Regions from separate parts of the Homo sapiens genome. Here all the other regions are linked to region 4. The links come from fine-mapping of genetic effects on gene expression. A gene starts in region 4. Each other region holds a variant in brackets. All regions are shown on one strand. Distances are from middle to middle.

What was found.
Region 1: its variant is fine-mapped to the expression of FAM124A in lung (TOPMed, PIP above 0.99).
Region 2: its variant is fine-mapped to the expression of FAM124A in breast (GTEx, PIP above 0.99).
Region 3: its variant is fine-mapped to the expression of FAM124A in monocytes after LPS (Quach 2016, PIP 0.95).

The regions. Positions count from the first base shown.
Region 1 is chr13:51,185,758-51,190,908 of GRCh38, forward strand. LOC107984554 (a long non-coding RNA gene) reads right to left here. Exons shown (of 2, transcript XR_007063803.1): 2 at 4,906-5,151. Among named protein-coding and RNA genes, the nearest start is that of FAM124A, 34 kb to the right of the region's middle. The variant G/A (reference allele first, on the strand shown) is at 1,997.
Region 2 is chr13:51,129,518-51,134,668 of GRCh38, forward strand. It overlaps a transcript of C13orf42 not described here. Among named protein-coding and RNA genes, the nearest start is that of C13orf42, 21 kb to the left of the region's middle. The variant G/A (reference allele first, on the strand shown) is at 2,652.
Region 3 is chr13:51,152,725-51,157,875 of GRCh38, forward strand. It overlaps a transcript of C13orf42 not described here. Among named protein-coding and RNA genes, the nearest start is that of C13orf42, 44 kb to the left of the region's middle. The variant T/C (reference allele first, on the strand shown) is at 2,937.
Region 4 is chr13:51,220,269-51,225,419 of GRCh38, forward strand. FAM124A (family with sequence similarity 124 member A) reads left to right here and starts at 2,130. Exons shown (of 4, transcript NM_001242312.2): 1 at 2,130-2,301. The coding sequence starts at 2,234. RefSeq lists an enhancer at 1,278-2,068 and silencers at 1,849-1,898, 2,019-2,078.

The DNA.
Region 1 (5,151 bases), 35 kb before region 4:
AATATTAAAATTAGGCAAAGGATCCATTTTATAGGTAATAGGAATCCCAGAAGAAGAAACCCAAAATAAAAAAACACAATAAATACTAAAAAATATAATTCATGAAAACTTTCTTAAAATTAAAAGATATGTTTGAAACTATATACTGAAGGGGCCACCATGTATTTGAGAATAATGACCCATAATGACCAACATCAAGTCATGTTTCAGTAAAATTACTAGACTTTAAAGAGAAAGAAAAAACACTGCAGTCATCTAGATAAAACCAGTATATTTCTGATGGCAAGTAAATTGCCATCAGAATTCCAGAATTTTTAGCAGCAATACATATGCCAGAGAAAGTAGAATAACAGATTTTAGACACTCAAGGAAAACTGAACCAATTATTATATAACCAGCTAAACTGACTTTCAAATATAAGGGCAATAAACTATTTGACATGGCAAGAACTTAGGAAATACTATTTGCATGAGCCTTTACTGAAGAATATACTAAAGAATGAACTTCAAATTTGATTGAGAAACATCAAAATAAGGACTGGTGAATATTAAATATGCATTTACTTGTAGAGCTAAATTATATTTAGGATAAAAAGGAAAGAGAACAACATACAATGTCTACATGTTCAGGCAGCATAGATTTTATATAATTGCAAAGAGTAGAGGATGATAGGGAGCACATCTGCAAAAACAATTTTAACTGGTGGTGGTAGAACAGTATTACTGTAGATATTCTTATCTTAGACTGTGTGTGCAATGAGGAAAAAAGAAAATAAATACTTATGAAATTTCTAATTTGATTATTCCTCAAGTCCTTGAGAACCAGGATTCTTAGATTCTCAGTATGGAAAAACAAGATACAGAAGTAATATAACAGATTAAGAAAAAACCTTACATCTCTGAATTTTAATTAAAAGTATCGATATAAATTCATAAGACTACATAGCATAGAGTTGTCGGAGGTATGTATTAACTCTGCCTACTAAGAGCCTAGAAACACCCAGATTATGGTATTAAAATACCCTTTCTACCCAAAGAGGCTTGAATATCTTTGAGGAAGTGACTGATTCCAAGTCCGAGGCAGAAAATGAACAAGATGCACTTTGTTATACCAGATAGCAAGGAGGCTATCAAAGACTACTAGGGCCATGTCAAAAATACTGAGAAACTGACTTGAAGAGGCTCCCACTGGCCAAAGAAGGAACAAGTGAGCTTCAAAGGGATAATTGCAATCATAGACCCATTAAATCAATGAGTTTATAATAACATTTTTTAACCCAAATTGTTGTTCACCTTCAGAAAATGATAGAAAATCAATTCATCTTGAAAACTATTAAATAAATGGAAAGAAAAAAGTATCATCCTGTCTTTCTGTATGAACTAGTCCACTCCATAACCAAATTGCAGATGTGTGAAGTGTCTCCTTATAAAGAGTTTTACACTAAATAAACTGCAAGAAATAATAGAATTAAAATTTCACTATTTCCAAATCCCAGGGAAGTAATGAATCAAGGCATTGAGCATCAAGAGCTGCAACTACAGAAAGAAATGACCAGACATTATGTGCCTCTTCTCCACAGAACACACCACGGCCTACGGCCTTAGGAGAAAGGATTAAGCATGAATCTGATCAAGACTTTGGCTCCAACTACCAATTTGCGGGAAATACACAGGATGGAGGAAGATGTTGACTCAAGCTATGATTATGTAATTTAAAAATCCACACTGTAGATAACTATTCAGGTCAAATGCAACAGATAAATTTTAAGAGGAAGAGATGGAGGGAAAACTAGAGATTAAGAGACTTAACAGCTGTTAATTTTTTAAATGGACAAGATTATACTGTCTATTGATGTACATTTAGATAATAAAAGTATTTAAATATTACACATGATTGATTGCCAGGTTAGCTTATTTTACCATATAAACAGAGTGGTGTATTATTGGGGAGGCAGGGATTAAGACTAGGGTAGACCTTATGGAGGGGCTTCTGGAGT[G/A]ACTGGTGAAATTCTATTTCTTGACCTGATTGTTTGTCTTATAAGTCATTAAGCAAACATTTGTTTTGTAGCTTCTTTTGCATCTGGTTTACTTTTAAATATAAAAGTTTTTTAAAGTTTATGTGAGCATTCACTACTCTTTACTGCTTCTCTATTGTGCTATTAAGACAGACATGGTGACTTCATGAAAAATATAAAACTGAAAAATTTTTTTACATTAAAAATTTGAGGCCAAAACCAGCTGAACAAGTAGGCATAAAGAAGATGTAAAGTTTTCATGAAAAGAACTTGGAAGTTTTCTTTTATAGTAAGCTTAAGGTGTATTAATATTTAGATAAGAAATTTCCCAGGCACTAACGTGGTCTTGGCACATTAATAAAAATATAAAATCTAAAACAACAGAACAATCATTGCTCTCCCCACTCTGAATGGTTGAAGGCTATATACCTTCACAAGTACTCTGACAGGCAAGGGTGCTCAGAGACAGATGAGGGTGGGAAGGGTCTCACACCATATTATACAAGGAACAATGAGGCAATGAAAAATATTTATTCTGGAAAGACTAGACTGAAAGACGTGACCATTAACTTCAAACATCTGAAGAACAGCCTGTTGAGAAAGGCATAATAGTTGTTCTCAGTGGTCCCAAGTCCAGTTGGTGGAAGAAACAGGGAGACAAATTTTGTGTCATAAAGAATTTTCTAGCTGGGCATGGTGGCTCATGTCTGTAATCCCAGCACTTTGGGAGGCTGAGGTGGGTGGATCACTTGAGGTCAGGAGTTCGAAACCAGCCTGACCAACATGGTGAAACCCTGTCTCTACTAAAAATACAAAATTTAGCCAGGCATGGGAGTGTGCACCTGTAATCCCAGTTACTCGGGAGGCTGAGGCAGGAGATTCTCTTGAACCCAAGACAGAGGATGCAGTGAGCTGAGATCATACCACTGCACTCCAGCCTGGGCGACACAGCGAGATTTCATCTCAAAAAAAAAAAAAAACATACACACAAACCAAGAATTTTCTGAGTGAGAAAATGTAGTGAATTACTTTTTAGAAAGTACAAAGTTCAGGCCGGACACGGTGGCTCATGCCTGTAATCCCAGCACTTTGGGAGGCCGAGGCAGGTGGATCACGAAGTCAGGAGATCAAGACTATCCCGGCTAACACAGTGAAACCCCATCTCTACTAAAAATACAAAAAAATTAGCCGGGCGTGGTGGTGGGCATCTGTAGTCCCAGCTACTCGGGAGGCTGAGGCAGGAGAATGGCGTGAACCTGGGAGGCGGAGCTTGCAGTGAGCTGAGTTTGCGCCACTGCACTCCAGAGCCTGGGCGACAGAGCGAGACTCTGTCTCAAAAAAAAAAGAAAGTACAAAGTTCTGTTTGAAGGTTTGAAGTTCACTATCAACAGATATAAACTTTACTATACACACATACATGGACATGTCAATTTAAGACACTTTTATGGCTTCTGTGCCTTTTCCATTAAACTTCCCTGAACCCCTTCCAGATACTTCTTGTCCTTGGCAGCATTTCCATGAGTTGCATCTATCTTACCTACCATTCGAGCTAGGCCATAATGGAGTGGAAATACACCATCCGTCTGCATATCATCCTTTTTTTCGGGGAAACATTCTACTTTCATTCAAGGTGGTCAATGTGAGGATGATGCTGACCACACATTAGTTCCAGAGATGGGTATGTGACCCAAGATAGGCCAATGACAGGGCTCCAGCCCTATGCCCATAATAATGGTTTACTGAGATGGCCCCGTAATCCTGACTGAGGCACAGTCTTCCCAAGGAATTTTCTGTCTGGGCTTTTTCTTCTTCTGGGATCTTGAGTCCTAAAGTCAATAAGTTTAAGCTGCTTTGAAACACTTTTCTTGATTAGAAAAAGCTATCTACTATAGCAATTAAATGGACCAACAGTTAAAAGAAACAGAAGCAGATAAAGAGATTGAAAAATTAATTCTTTAGGTCCAAATGTACCTTAAGTATACCTAAATTTTGTAGTTACATAAATCAGTAAGTTTCTTTCTCTTTTCCTTTAAATCAATGTGAGTTCAGTTTGTCACTTGCAACCAAAAGAATTCAGACTAATATGTAGAGCATATCACAGTTGTACGTTTAATATAACGCTTTCTTGCATAATTGTGTTAATGAAACAAGATCTGACAATAAAACTTTAAAGTGCAGACATTAGCGTTCAATTAACTCGGCCACATATTCATATGTTCAGTTGTTATTATGGAGAGTAAGATTTGGTTGAGGAATTAGAAATCGTTCATAGCATAAAGCTCTGATATCTGGATTGCAAAATTCTAATATCTGTAAGATGAATAAAATATAGTTCTTTCTGCTTGAGAAATGAGTGGCTTCTGCCTAATTTTGAATTTTTGCCTCATTATGTGCTCTGAATCAGTACTTTCACAAATGGAAAATATTAATTCTCATTAGAACCCATTTGAATTCTGACAATAGCTGTGATTTGTATTTGCATCTGATTACACTCTACTAAAAGGAGCAAACTGGATGCAGCAGAGATGAAATCTGTTGAGTCCTGAAGAGTAAGGGAGTCTACAACAACGAGAAGGAGAGTCTGGTGAAACTGGAAGTGGGTGGGTGCCTGAACGCTGTCATATTTTCACCACCTGAATATATTACAAGAAATGTCAGCCTTTCTTGGCCCTGGATTCCCTGTGAAAGTAGGGTTTCTCTAACACACACACACACACACACACACACACACACACACTCTGATTGTAGCTCCTTAAATATCTAGAAGTCACTGGTCACATTTATTACTCAAATAATTTAAAGTATGATTCAAGAAGCGACAAAAGTGTCACTGTGTCTACAGATTTACTCATTTCATCCATCCTTTTTAGTTACTCCAGGACTTCAACATCTTTAAAACAGGCATTCTATGGTTTATTAAAAACATTACATCCCAAATTTCTGATGGCTGTTTGAGATATTTTATACAGACATCTACAATATGTTTTTCCACATGCTGCTGGAAATAAAACGTTTTGCTTGAAGAAGCTTCAATACTGTCCTGATTCCTCTGGTTCTTGCATTAATTAATCTTCAATGAGCTTTTCAATAGCTCCAGTTCCAAAATCCTGCTGCATATCAGAGTTACTAAGGGACTT
Region 2 (5,151 bases), 91 kb before region 4:
TTTGATTCAGTGTCGGCCACAATGGGCATGTCTTTCTCTGGCTTCCCTGAGTGCCTCGCCTTCCCCACCCTGCCACAGACAATGCTTTTCTCCCTTCCCTTTCCTTTCTTTCTCTGTGCAAACCAGTTGAACGCACGACAAAAATCATTGTTTATCTCCTCTATAAAGTTTTGGTTAATAGAAAAAAGGATTTGTGAGCCTAGTCTTAAGCTGTAGTGAATCTGGTGTGCTTTGTGTGTCTTTCTGTATTGTTCTGTCATAAAGAGGGGTACCTTAGGATAGAACATGGCCTTAGAACCCATAAGCCTACTCTTCAAGATGGCCTAGTAAACTGGTCAGTTATAAACTTTGCTGCAGATGCATGAAAAAAATAAACTGGATGGGGTTTCCCTCCTGTCTTCTATGTCCTTGGGAACCATGTGGCCTTGCTTTCTCTTTTCACAATGGCAGCCCGGGTTCAGGGTTCAATTCCTGGCTTATGGAATGAGTCCTTTACCTGCTGAATGTCTGTGTATTTGTATGTGTTGTGTGTGTGATATGAAAGAGCTTTGATTAATTGGTTTAAAAATAAGTGCTTAAATAAAATATTTTTTCAGAAAAGTAAAAAGTGTAATGCCTTTTAGTTCACATGACTTTAGTAATCTTTGGGAAATAAAAACAGCCTTAAAGATTATTGGTAAAACAAAGACATTTGGTCTAAATTATGCAGTCAGATATTAAGTTTGCTAAATGCTTTAAGGTCATAAACTGCTTCTTTGACTTTTGAAAATTGTTCAATTTATTTTGGAGCATTAGATTCTAGATAAGGCCTGGGAACATGTGAAATTAGCGTGCCCCCTATCTATGCAAAGAAGGTTATAAAGAAAAGAGATTTTATATAAGAAAGGATTTTGTATGGTAAATTCTTGTCCTAAAGTAAAATGACTGGTTGTTTAAAAAGAGGGATGTTTAGGACAAGTCAGAAAGTCAAAGCAGGTTGTAGATGGTCTGTGTACATTGTAAAAGAATTTATAAAGGGGATTTATGCAAGAAATGTACAATTTAAAGGTGATTAGGCCTCCTAAATGCTTCAAAAAAACACCACTATGACTCTTAAATGTACAGCTTGGTAAGGCCTGGGACACATGGAGTTAGACAACGGAAAGAATCAGACCTTATCTGCACTTCTGACTGGGTCCTAGGCTCCACACTAGTACATAATTAAACCCCTGAACTTACCAAGGTTTTCACCAAAAGTAAAAGTCACTAAGAGTTAACATTGTAACATATAGTTAAGACTACTAAAGAAACAGTTCTATGTGTAAGGCATGTAAGGAAAGTGAAATGTGTTTTTGGTAAAAAAAAAATATATATATATATATATAAACAGTCAAGGAAATGTGGATTTTTTTTGCCTAGATTAAAGGGTTAAAGTGTTGTTTTGAGTTAGGATAAAGCCAAAGGTTTGAACAAGTTGTAGAAGGTTTGTGAACAATTAATTGTAAAAGAGATTCCATGTGCCAACATATTAGCTAAAGCTAAAGGAGCATTCAGTTTTTCTGTAAATTAAACATTGAAGTAATCTTTTTTGACTTTTCGCTTAAAACCGTGCTGATCCTTTGTTTTGTTTTTCAAAGTCAAGGAAACTTAAGCTATTTACAGCTTTTGACAATTAAGTAAATTATACTCCTGTGAACAAAATTTGGAGCATATTTGTTTCTCTCTACCTGATTCCTCCAGAATTTGGAAACTATTTGTGAGTATCTTAAGGCAACATAGTGCAATAAGAATCTGTTTCTTTTGCAATAGGACACAATTGGAAAAACTGGTTATTTTTACCAAGGCTTTGACTGGAATGGTGTGTTTTCCTTTAAGGAATTAAACTTGACTTATAGATCCAATAAAAGCCCCTTGGGAAAACTGGCCTCACACCTTGTCTACACAGTCCCTGTACAGGTTTCCTGACCTGTGGTAAGTAAAGAATGTCACTTTCTAACAGGCCTAGGACCCCACCAAGTTATCTGGGAAAAGGCCTAAGAGCCCCAAGTTATCTGGGAACCTCAAGAGGAGAGGAAGTTACTCAACTCATAGGTATTTGAGGGTACAAATCCATGGCTCGGCTCTAAAAAAGTCTTATCTAAGATTCCTTCTTATGGAACAGAGTTCCATCAAAGCCAATTTAAAAAGAGCTTATGTGAAAAATAATTATTCTTGCTGCACTTTATACAAATAATCAAGCCAAGTATAATAAACCAAATCAGTCTTACCATGATTTGTCTTTAGTGAAAAATGGGAAACTAGAGAGAGAAAAATTATGTTTCAAGAACTATGGTACATTTGTTATTAAACTTTAGTCTCATCAGTTATTTTTGAGTTTTTTTCCTGTAATTTAGACTAGCCCTGCTTATTCCTATGAAGCAACCAGTGATCTCTGGCTGCTGCTTAGAAGAAACAAGAGGGATGGGTAATATAAAAATCTGGATCAATATTCTAATCCTGAGCATGTATTGGAATCATCTAGCAACCCCATATCAGCTTGGTTCCAATAGTTGCCCAGTTCATGGAAAGCCTTCTAATTTAGTTAACTTGAGATAATTTTGCTTATTTTGCTTTACTGTTGTGGAATATATTGTTGTACTCTTTGTGTAGAAATGCAGGATAAGCGGCCGGGC[G/A]CGGTGGCTCACGCCTGTAATCCCAGCACTTTGGGAGGCCGAGGCGGGCAGATCACAAGGTCAGGAGATCGAGACTATCCTGGCCAATATCGTGAAACCTCAGCTCTACTAAAAATACAAAAATTAGCTTGACGTGGTGGCGTAATCCTAGCTACTCAGGAGGCTGAGGCAGGAGAATCACTTGAACTGGGGAGTCAGAGGTTGCAGTGAGCCAGGATCGCGCCACTGCAATCCAGCCTGGTGACAGACAGACTCCGTCTCAAAAACAAAAAAAAAAAAGCAGGATAAGCTTACCGAATGTTTTCTTAAATTAAACACTTATTCATCTTCTGGATATCACCTTTTGTTGGAACTCAGAGTTATGAGTGTCCCTCAACATACTTATGCTTTCTAAGCTCCTCTCTATCCTGAACACAAGAGACTTGGGAATATCATCGCCCCTACTCAGCCCAAAGAAGTAACAGAAAATGATGGATCTTCATCCCTCTGCAACCCTTAGGATTAAGGGTTTTGTTATTTAAAAAGCAGGGAAAATGTCAGAGGCATCTGGACTAGAGCAACTCCATCTTGAATAGGGGCTGGGTAAAATGACGCTGAGACCTGCTGGGCCACGTTCCCAGGAGGTTAAGGCATTTTAAGTCACAGGATGAGATAGGAGATTGACACAAGATACAGGTCATAAAGACCTTGCTGATAAAACAGCTTGCAGTAAAGAAGCAGGCTAAAACCCAAACCAAAACCAAGATGATGATGAGAGTGACCACTGGTCGTCCTCACTGCTACACCCTCACCAGCGCCATGACAGTTTACAAATGCCATGGCAACATCAGGAAGTTATACTATATGGTCTACAAAGGGGAGGCATGAATAATCCACCCCTTGTTTGGCATACAATCAAGAAATAACCATAAAAATGGGCAACCAGCAGCTTTCAGGGCTGCTCTGTCTGTGGAGTAGCCATTCCTTTATTCCTCTACTTTCTTAATAAACTTACTTTCACTTTACTATACGGACTCACCGTGAATTCTTTCTTGCACAAGATCCAAGAACCCTCTCTTGAGATCTGGATTGGTACCCCTTTCCAGTAACACCTAGAGTAGTCAGATTCATAGAGAAGGGAAATAGAATGTGGTTACCAAGAGCTGGGAGAGGGGAGGACGGGGAGTTGCTATTTAATAGGCACAGAGTTTCTGTTTGAGGGAATGGGGAAGTTCTAGAGGTGGGAAGTGATGTTTGCACAACATTGTGAATGTACTTAATGCCACTCATTTTACACCTAAAGATGGTTAAAATTGTGAATTTTAGTTATGTATATTTTATCACAATTTTAAAAACTATAAAAAATTTTCTCTACTGAACATGTACTATTTTTAATTTTTTTATTTATTAAATATATATTTTTTAATTAAAGTTGGCAATTTCAGAAACACTCTGGGAGCCCTGGGGCTGGGTCAGCCTGGCCTGCAGCACAGCCCCAATGGGCCCCAGGAAAGGTGTGGGTGCCCGGGTGCCTTCCCTTGGTCTGAGCACTGTTCTGTGTGCACTGAGGTCTGATGCACATGGGCCTCCCCAGTGGCTGTCAACCTTTTGCCTCCTGCATCTCGAACTCTGTGCCACCGTGTGTCCAAGAGAAAAATGAGACAGAAGAGGGGGCTCTGTGATACCAGACATCTGGAAACTGACTCCAAAGGGCCTGTGCTGAGCAACATGGAGTTTTACAAACGACAGAAGCTATCTTGAGGACAGGGGACAAAAGCCAGGGAAGCCTTCCTGGGGTCCTCTACACCAGCCCTCAGGAGAGCAGGCATCCGCACACCTGCAGCATCCTGTGCACGCTCACACCATGTTCCTTCCACCCACCATCCACCAACACCACTGCTCCCAGAAACTCCCTTGGGAAGGTGAGCTTGTAGGTAATTTATGGTTTCTTTGCAGAATTTCCTGAAAATCTAAGTCCATTTACCTGCCTTCTCAGGACCAAAAATAGCAGCAATCTAGCCCAAATCCTCACCTCCCTGTGTCCCCTGACCCTAATATGTCCCAAACTTTCCCAATTCTAATCCACCCCCACATCAAAAACTCACTCACTCAGGGTTCAACATATTCAATGACCACCACATTTGCCCTCTTTTCTGAGGCACTCCTCAGTCTCAGAATCCCCTTTACTGGGGTATGTAATGAACTTGGCTTTGCCTTAACACCAAGCTGTTTTGGTGTGGTTTGGGGAGCCACCATCCCATCTGATACTCAACTGCTGTGGACAGATACCTCTCGGCAAAGGGGCCGTTACAGAGTGTAGAGTCAGTGATCTTCCTACAAACTCTAAATCCTTTGGGATTTATGATGGTTAATAGGCAAGAATGAACATATACTCATTTCTCCAACTTAACTGTTTTCCAATTCTTGTTCTTTTATTAAACAAACAAGCAAGGCAGGAAATTCCTCCTGTCTGAGGTTAATTTGATCACCAGCATCAAAAACCTGCTGGGCCCAGCTCCAG
Region 3 (5,151 bases), 68 kb before region 4:
ATCACTGAGCCTCAATTTACTTCTACCATCAGTAAAAAGAGGTCAGGGTGGCTCTGGCAAACCTAAGCCCTAGTCCTGGGAAATCCACAGATAACCCTTTAAGGCTCACTGGCTTAGTGACTCAATCCCTCCAGCCTCTTTGCTATGCTCGAGCCACATGTCTGCTGGCTGTGGATCCCATACATGCAGAGCTGCGTCATGTTCGCGGGCACCCTGGGGACACCTGCTGCGGGGTTGATGTTTTGTTATGTTTCTGCAGCACAACCAGGGCTGGCTTCTTGGGGACTGTATACAGTGCACTTGCCCAGCCCCACACACAGAAGGGATTGAGGTTTAGTGCTCTGCAGTGGCAATCTTAAAACTCTTAATGATTGTATCTTTGAATTAATGTTTTGTAAGTCAAGTTATGTGCCAAAGACTTGGAGCCTCAGCTCCTGCCATTGCACCTGCCGCCTCCCTAGCAAGGGTTCTTCAACACCCCCTCCCCTGTCCTGCCAAGTGACCACTGCCCCTTTTTCCTGCTCCCTCCATAGGGTCCTGCTGAGCAACCACTGCCCCCTTTTCCTGCCCTCCTCAGAGTGTGGGAGCCAGGCATGCACCCCCTGCATGCCCAGGGCATCAAGATGAGGTCCTGGGCACCTATAAGTGTCTGCACTCACCCAATGCCTATGCTTGTGCCCAAGGGAGTGTGACACTCAATACCAAATAAAAAAACATGACAGAGAGAGAGAGAGAGACAGAGATAGAGACTGTGAGAGAGAAAGCTTTTCTCCTACTTTAAAAAAAATTGTAGTAAAAATTATGTAACATAAAATTACTCTCTTAACCATTTTAAGTGTACTGCTCAGTTGTGTTAAATACATTCACGTTGTTATCAACCCATTTTCTTGCTTTCTGTTTTTTTTCTTTTTTTTTTTTTTTTTTTTTTTTTTGGAGACAGGATCTCGCTTTGTCGCCCAGGCTGGAATGCAGTGATGCAATCTCTCAGCTCACTGCAACCTCCGTCTCCTGAGCTCAAGTGATTCTCCCACCTCAGCCTCCCAAATAGCTGGGACTACAGGTGCATTCCTAGCTAAGTTTTGTATGTTTAGTAGAGAAAGGATTTCGCCATGTTGTCCAGGCGGGTCTCAGACTCCTGGGCTCAAGCAATCTACCGCCTCGGCCTCCCAGAGTGCTGAGATTACAGGATTGAGCCACCATGCCTGACCCAACCCATCTTCAAAACTGTTTTCTTCTTGCAAAACTAAAATGTGATACCCATTACTCCCCATTTTCCCCTACCCCCAGCCCCTGACAACCACCATTCTACTTCCTATCTCTATGAATTTGACAACTCCGGTACGTCACACAAGTGAATCATACAGCTTTTGTGTTTTTGTGACTGGCTTATTTCACTCAGCATAATGTCCTTGGGGTTCTTCGTGAGTAGCATGTGTCAGAATTTCCTTCCTTTTTTAAGCTGAATAATATTCCATTGTGTGTCTATGTCACATTTTGTTTATCCATTCATCTGTAGATGGACATTTAAGTTCCACCTTTTGGCTATTGTAAGTAATGCTGCCATGAACACGGTATGCAACTATCTCTTTGAGTCCCTGCTTTCGATTCTGTTGGGTATGTTTGGAAGTGGAATTGCTGAGTCATAGGGACTCCTGCTTTTTGAACACACATTTTCATTTTGAACTGGGCTGTTTAAATTATACAATTATACAGCTGGCTCTGCACATGCCCAGTTAGGGTGCGTATGAATCACAGTGTCGGAGGACTGTTCTGCTTCAGCCAATGGAACTAAGGACTAAAGACTTTCCATGTTTGACCTGATAGTGTCACCACCAGAGTGGAGCAAGCGAGAAAAGTAAGAGACTGAGCAAGAGTGCTCACCCTCAAGTGTCCCCACCAGTCAGAAGCAGCATGTATTGACATTCATGGCTGTAGAACATTCTGGAACTGGTTTTCATTTATCAATGCATGCATTATTTCTTCCAATGCATATGTATTAAACCTCAGCTACGTGCCAGACCTCGTTGAAGACACTGAGGATAAAGCAGTAAACAATGCATGGAAGGGTCTTCCATGCAAGTCAGACAAGTAAACTAATTGCACATTCGACGGTTTCTTGTGAAAAGTTCTATAAAGGGGAAATGTTGGGCCCTGAGCCCAAGGGTAGAAAGCAGGCTGTGCATGAGTCACTGTCCTGCTTTTAAGGGGCCGGTAAGGTAGGACAGGAGTTTCCAAAGTGGTACGTGAGATGATCTTAGGTAGAACGTTTTATCTTTTCTTTTTAATAGGTACATATTCAGTTTAACGTATGTTTAGAAATATATATCTAATACCTCAAACCCTCAATTCTTAACTATCTCCTGGATGATGCTCAATTTAAAAAGGAGTTCATGTAAAATGAATAAATATAAGCTAAATATTAAAGCCTATTATGTTGTTATTAAAATAAATAAATAATGCAGGAGCTACATGAATAAGACCTAAACATTTAAAGATTGCAACTCAAAAAAACTACATTTTGGAAACTCCTTGTGGGTTTTAAAGATAACTTTTTTAATACAGACATATTTTTAAGAAGAGTATAACTAGGGCTAAGATACAAGTAAGTCCATGGGGAAAGGGAAGCAGCTGTGTTTGAGAGGAGCTCCTAACCCAATTTAGGGGATTCAAGAAAGGCTTCCAAGAAAATTGCTTCATGCAATGAATTTTGTTCCTTGAATTACTCAGTCCAGGTGTATTTGTGTGAACTCTTCAAGTATGAGCGCTGGAAACCCACTACAGCCAGTTTAAGCAGGAGGGGTAATTTGCAGATGAGGATGCTGGGTGATCCCACAGTGGCTCAGGCCTCAGAGTGACCCACCTCTCTCAATCTCTGCTCCTGGTCCCCACTCTTATCTGAGGCTCTGCTTTACCTCTCACACTCGCTGCACACTTCC[T/C]TTCTCAGTATATTTCCAAGTGGACAAGATGGAAAACGGCTACCGCATTCTTCTATTTATATCTCTTCCATTCAAAGACAATCTCAACTGATGTTACCATTTCTTACTTCCAAGTCTTGACTTCTGGGGAAGAGACTCTGGTCAGGCATCACAGGTGACCTCAGAGGCGGGGTCTTGTTCACACAAGGACAACTGTCACCACGTGGTCAGGGAGGGGAAAATTACCAGAATCCAGATGGGAATGGGGTTGGAGATCCAGGCAGAAAACCTGATGGCACAAGCTGGAAAAGTCCTCATTTCAACAGCTTCCAGACTCCCCTGTGCCTGACATCAGTGTAGGTAGGAACTGCCAACAAGCCTGGAACAACATTTTCTCTTAGGCCACCTTGAGGATACGGGTGGCAGGAGAGATCTGGAGTGACAGGGGACCTTGACCCCACCCCCGGCCTGTAACCCAGGGGTTCTCTTGGGGAAGAAGGAAAGCAGTCCCATGGGCCTGCCACGTGCCTAGGATTCGGGGCTATGTTAACCCATAGGAGGGAGGTAGGGAGCAAACAGTTTGGCTAGGCCTATATTTCTACTTTATATCCCAGAAAATAATGGGATTTGGCCCTTCCATTTGAAAGCCTGTGTCATTCAACAGAGTAATCGGTAACACATGTATAGCTCTTACTATGTGCCAAGTGCATACTGTGTTCTAAGTGTTTTACACAGATTAACTCAAATAACTCTGTGATACATAGCTGCCACTACGCCCTTTCCTGAAGATGAGAAAATTAAGGCACAGAGAGGTCAAGGAACTTACCCACATTTACACAGAAAGGAAATGAGGAGCTGGAACTCAAACCCAGGAAATCTGTCTTCAGAGCCTATGGTACTGATCAAAAGGCCACACAGACCAAGGTTAAAATCTTGCTTCACCCCTTACTTGTTATAAGGTCTCTTTAAACTATTGATTCAGTGATAAAATGGAACAAAAGACACCTACCATATAAGATTATTGTAAAGACTAGTGGAAAAAATCGGTATCTACAAAGCACTTAGAACTGAATAGGTACTTGATCAGGGTAGTTACTATTGTTAAGGAGAGATAAGGAATCTGAATATTGTTCAGCTCTCATGGGCATCTGGTGATGGGGTGTGTCCCCATTTTCCACACTGTAATTGTCTGCCTAGGCCAGCTCTCATTCAGGCCAGTTCACTCTGTTGCAAGGGAATAATCCACGCAATTGTTACCCAGTGCCATAGGTGGCTGAGTACAGCTTCTCGTATTACATATCTTCACATCCTGCTGAGCAACAGCACTAGTGGTGCTTTTTCTATAGTTATTTAAAATTTCAGTTCTCCTTAATTGAAGTAGAGCATACATAAAGGGCACAAATTGTAAATGCACAGCTCCAGTGTTATATGTGCAGATGTCCAGATCCAGGCCTAGAACACTTCCAGCACCCCAGAGGCTCCCTCTGCCCTTTCCCCATCAATTCCCACACTGGCCAGGAGCGGTGGCTGCCGCCTGTAATCCCAGCACTTTGGGAGGCCGAGGCGGACGGATCGTTTGAGGTCAGGAGTTCGAGACCAGCCTGGTCAACATGGTGAAACCCCATCCCTACTAAAAATACAAAAATTAGCTGAGCGCAGTGGTGTGCACGTGTAGTCCCAGCTACTCTGGCAGCTGAGGCAGAAGAATCACCTGAACCCAGGAGGTGGAGGTTGCAGTGAGCTGAGATTGTGCCACTGCACTCCAGCCTGGGCGACAGAGCGAGACTCCATCTCAAAAGATAAAATAAAATAAAATAAAATAAAATGAAATAAAATTCCCACACCAAAGAGGTGGCCAATGGACTGACTTCTATTGCCTTAGGTTCATTTTGCCTGCTCGTGAACTTTGTAGACATGGCTGGATTTGTACTGCCAGTGTTTTTGTAGGCACTTCTTGCCTTCTTCTGCCATGCAGGTGAGTGAGCTATTTGTGGCCAGCGAGCCTTTGTTGAAACCCCCTTTGTTCCTTACTGCACCCCTACACACGCTTGTACAGGAGCAGACCATGCCAGCATGAAGAGGCAACCAACTGGTGTTTTTTTAATGTTAGATAAATAAAGCAGGGTCAACAGAAGCCTCGTGTATTGTGAAGTAATAAATATTCACTAAAATTCAGAACTTGACAATTAAATATTGACACCTGTGTTCTGGCTCTCACAAAAGATTTAAAATCTCT
Region 4 (5,151 bases):
GCAGACCAGTGACACTTTTCTGTCCCCATCTTAAAGGGGTGGAGGAGAGCATCGTACCCCCATGATTAAAGAGACTGACATTAAACAGCTGGACTATGGAGTGTGGGAACCATGTAAGTTTAGGGGCTAGATACCCTGCAGTGATCACTTGAAGGTTCTTGTGCTGGTTACCTGCCAGCAACTCTTATACCCCGCCCTCCCAAAAAATGGGCCAGGTGCAATGCCTCATGCCTATAGTCCCAGCACTTTGAGAGGCCGAGGCAGGAGGATCACTTGAGGCCAGGAGTTCGAGACCAGCCTAGGCAACATATTTTTCTCTACAAAAAAATTAAAACTCAGCTGGGCATGGTGGCACGCCTGTAGTCCCAGCTACTCAGGAGGCTGGGAGGATCACTTGAATCAGGGAGGTGGAGGCTGTAGTGAGCTGTGATTGTGCCACTGTACTCTAGCCTGGGCAACAGAGTAAGACCCTGTCTCAAACAAACAAGCAAAAAATGAAGTGAGGCTTTTAAAACCTGGGAACTGAAGCAGAAAGCCATGCATCACTAGAATACAGTGATACCGTTCAAGCTTCTCTTCCATATAATAAATGCATCACTGAGTTGCCATTAGACTGCTATGCCAATGATGAATGATAACACTGTGTCCCCTGTGGGCGAGGGGAACCTGAATCCATGCATCATTTTGAGATGTGGCTTGAGGTTTTGGTCTGGCATGCCCTTTCTCTGGATATTTGAGAAAGGCAGAAATCATTTAAATAGCATCTCATTTTCCAAAGCCCATCTTCTAAAAGTCATGCTGATTTCACCCTTTCTTCCCTGGCCTTTTCCTTAGTACCATCTTCCTGAGGATACAACTGGCCCACTCATCAGCCTTCTAGGTAAGTGGCACAGGCTCCAGCTACCTTAAGTGGACTACCTGGCTTCCCTGCTCACTGATAGGGTGTCCTGGGACCAGGCACTCGAACTCGGTAGGGTTTAGTTTCCTTGACGGTAAAATAGAAAAGTAAGCCTGTTTCACAGCACTTCCCTGAGGATCAAATGAGGCACAGTTTGAATTGTTCCCACACAGAGTAAATAAAGGCAGGTTCCCTCCTGGCTGCAAGATAAAAAATGGGCAGGGGAATCTCCCTTGAAGAACTGGCACGCTCCTTTCTTTCAGCTAATGCCCACCAATATGTCCATTGCTGTTTGGGGTGCAAGAAATTTTAGGCTCAGTAAGGACAATTCCTCCCAATGGTTTGGATAGGGCTGTCAGAACTAAATTCAAGTTGTTCGAAGTCTCCTTCCGCCCGCCCTGCCAACTTGCCTCCCTCTTCACCCTCCTAATAGGAGGTGAGCCCCTCCAATAGCGATCATTAACTCACCCTAAGGTTATCCCCTTGCTGCAACAACCCGTGAATTGCAGGTTCATTCAATGCTCTTTAAATTATTTTTAAAGGCTTTTTTTTTTTTAAGTAGCAAAAGAATGCATGACACCTATTGTAAACTGGCAAGTTGAGGGGGTGGGATGCCGCTCAGACGTGTACTGAGAAAGGTGATAATGAATTTGGCGTCAGCAATTCTTCAGAAACTATAAGAAAACACCCAGGTGTTCGAATTGGTCCCAAAAGGGAAACAAATCCTTCCCAGCTTTCACGATGCGCTGAGGTTGGTTTTCTCAGTGCTCCTCCCAGATCAGGAGGTGGGGAACCTCGTGGCAAGCCCTGGGGCTCGGGATTCCCGGACTGTGGGCCTGGGGGAGAGAGGCGGCTCTCGTGTGCACACTTACCCCGCCCCCACAACACACACGCGGTCACGCACCACAGACGGGCACACGCGCTCAGCACAGCCACAGTCGCGTGCAACCAGGAGTGCACACCGCACCCACATCACACCGCATGCACAGACGCACGGGTGTGAGACCACACACCTCGGCCACTCACGCTCACACGCCCCCCACGCGCTCGCACACGCGCTCGCACGCGCACTCCCCGCGCACCGCCGCGCGCACACGCGGGTCCCGCCGGACGGCGAGGGGCGGGGCGGGCGCGGGCGCAGGCGCGGGTGCCCAGCCGGGCGCGGTCGGGAGAGGGCGCGGCGCGGGGTTCGCGGCTGGCGCTTGAGTTGTTTGCCGGCTCCCGGGCCGCCAGACGCTCGGAGGGAGCCCGGCCGGCTCGGACTGGGCGGCCGGGAGGGAGGGCGCCCCGGGTCACGACGGCGCCCGCAAGCCGAGCGCGGCCGGGACGTGCACCATGGACCCAAAGGCGGGCGGCGGCGGCGAGGAGGACGACTGCGTGGACTCGGGCGCCGAGACCGGAGGGTGAGCCGCGCCGGGCCGGGCCGCGGGCGGGGGGCGCTCTCCGAGTTGCGCGGCGGCTCCTCCCCGGACGGGGACCCTCCTGATCCGTGCGACGGGACCGGGGCGCGGGGCTTCTCCTCCTGCCGGATCCCCCGCTCTCTCCTGGGCGGGCCGCGCTGCCCTGGGCAGGGCGGGCACCACCCGGGGGGAGGAAAGTGGAAGGACTCAAGGTTCAGTGCAAGCCCACCCATCCTGTGAGGCGATGCAGAGCGCCAGGCGGATGCAAAGACCCCTTGTCTGCATCGCTAGAGACAGGAGATGCTCTTGCACTTGTTTCCTCCTTCCTCGGGGACTTTCCTCCTGTAGCTCCGGAGCCCCCTGGAGTCCGGCCCTGGAGATCGGGAGAGGAAGAAAAGCAGGGTGGGACACCCGCACCTAAAAGTCTTTCCGAAGTCGGCTAGGAGGATGGCATTTCTCGTTATATGGCTTCATCGTGGGACTTTAATCTGTGCTGCCGAGTCCCCCTCCCCGACTCCTCCAGTCCCGCCGAACTTCCTCACCTCTAAGTGCACCTGTCCCAGCTGGACCCTTTGGCCTGTTGTACCGGCGGGATGGAGATGGTGTTGGGATTAGGATCTAGCCCTGCCTTTTTTTTTTTTTAATATTCTCTTCGCTTCAGCGGACTCAAACAATGGGCTCAAACCTTTGGAGACTAATTAGTTAGTCTCCAAACACTGTTTTCCTGAGCGGAAGAAAAGACAAAATGCCTTTTAGGAGATGAATGTCGTTATAAAGGCTTCCAGGCAGCCTCTGTCTCTAAAGGACTTTCCTGTGCAGAGTCAGCACCACATCCAGGCCGCGGGTACTGACCCAGGAGGAAAGGGTGTTTTTTCCTATCTGGAGTAATCCTGGGGGAGGGCGGGAGCTGCCTAGACTACAGAAAGCCTCATTCCTGGAAGGTCGGAGAGGTTTTAGACTAATCTCAGGATTTGGCAACCCTGTGAGGGCAGGTAGAGAATCCAGGCCCACGATCGACCCAGAGTTCTAACCCAACCCCGGCAAAGCTCCCCACAGGGCCCCTCCTGCCCCACCACTCCTAGCCCAAATGCGGGACTTTACTCCCTAGGGCATTCACCCAGCAATGGGCTTTCTCTGTTATCCAAACTTATTCATAGCTCTCTACAGCACCCAATTATAATCTGGTGGAGTAACCTGATGCTAAATGCCAAACTTCCTTTCTTCTTCCCACTCTTTGTGTAAGTGGCATTTATCAACTTTAACAAGATTATTGGCTTTTTTTTTCTGCCATTAGTTAGCTGGACCATGAATAGAAGAAACAAAGCAAAATTAACCAGCTTATTTGTAACTGCGTTAAATAAAGCATTCACTAGTCTATTCATTTTCAATTTGCAGAACTCACCTAAAACTGATATTTTTTTCAAGGGCTCTGTCTTAGAGAAGGGAGAGGAAGTCCTGGACCCAGGGGGTGACATCGCCCCAGGATCTGGACATCAGCATGACAGCGGCCAGGCCTCCTGGGAGGGGCTCCCCACTCCTGCTGACACCAGAGCTTCTGTTCTCAGCCTCTGTCACTAAAATGTGTAGTTGTAACAGGACAGAATTGTTTAAAGAATTCTTGGCCAGGTGCGGTAGCTCGCGCCTATAATCCCAGCACTTTGGGTGGCCGAGGTGGGCGGATCACCTGAGGTCGGGAGTTTGAGACCAGCCTGGCCAACATGGAGAAACCTCATCCCTACTAAAAAATATACAGAATTAGCCAGGTGTGGTGGCGCATGCCTGTAATCCCAGCTACTCGGGAGGCTGAGGCAGGAGAATCGCTTGAACCCGGGAGGCGGAGGTTGCCATGAGCTGAGATCACGCCATTGCACTCCAGCATGGGCAACAAGAGCAAAACTCCATCTCCAAAAAAAAAGGAATTCTTACTGTATCACTAGTATCCTTAAGCTAAAGGTAAAATAGCATGCATTTCAATGTATGCTAATTAGTTTTGTGTTTGCCATATATTCACAGAGCCCTTGAATTTCAGTTATCAAAAAGCTGTTCATCGTTTCCCTGCTTTTCCAGAGCTTGCCCCCACCCCTTACCCTATCCAGCTTTCACAGAGATTATGTAGAAAGCACATAGAAGACAACAAGTGTTTGCTATCGTTAGTATTTTTAAAATGCAAATCTGATCATGTCTCTCCCTTTCAAACTTTTATGGCTCTGTTATCTACAAATGCAAGGAATTTAACGTGGCCTATATGCCCTGACTCCTGTTATGGAGTCCCTTCTTCCCTCCCTGGCCTTGTTTCTCAGCAGGTCCTTCTTTGCGCCTTGTATTTTTCTGTTTCCTCGCCTTTGTCAAGCTGCCCTCTTTGCCAGCTCTGCCCTTCCCACCTGACTTGCCTGTCTGCCAGGTGAAACTCTACTCTTCTTTCAGGACTCAGCTCAAGTGACACATCTGCTAAGGCAGTGATCCTTAATTTGGGGTCCATGAATTCCTTCAAGTTGTATGCAAAATGATGTGCTTTGTGAATTTGTATGAGAAGAGAACTTTTTTTTTTTATCAGATTCTCAAAGTAGCTGGTGATCTATTCCAAACCAAGTTTGGGCAAGATATGAGACATTTCATTTTCAACACACTGTGTCTGAGGTGTTGCAAGACATCCAAGTAAAGATGATGAATCAGCAGTTGGGTATATCTGTCTGGAACTCAGAAGGGAGGTCTTCATGATGACATTGCATTTGGGTACTATTTACCTAAAAATGGCAATGGAAGCTCTGGGAGAGACTAAATCAACTGAAGGTAATAGCAAGCACTTTCTTAGCATTTAGTATGTGCCACCTACTGTTCTAAGCCTTTATGTAT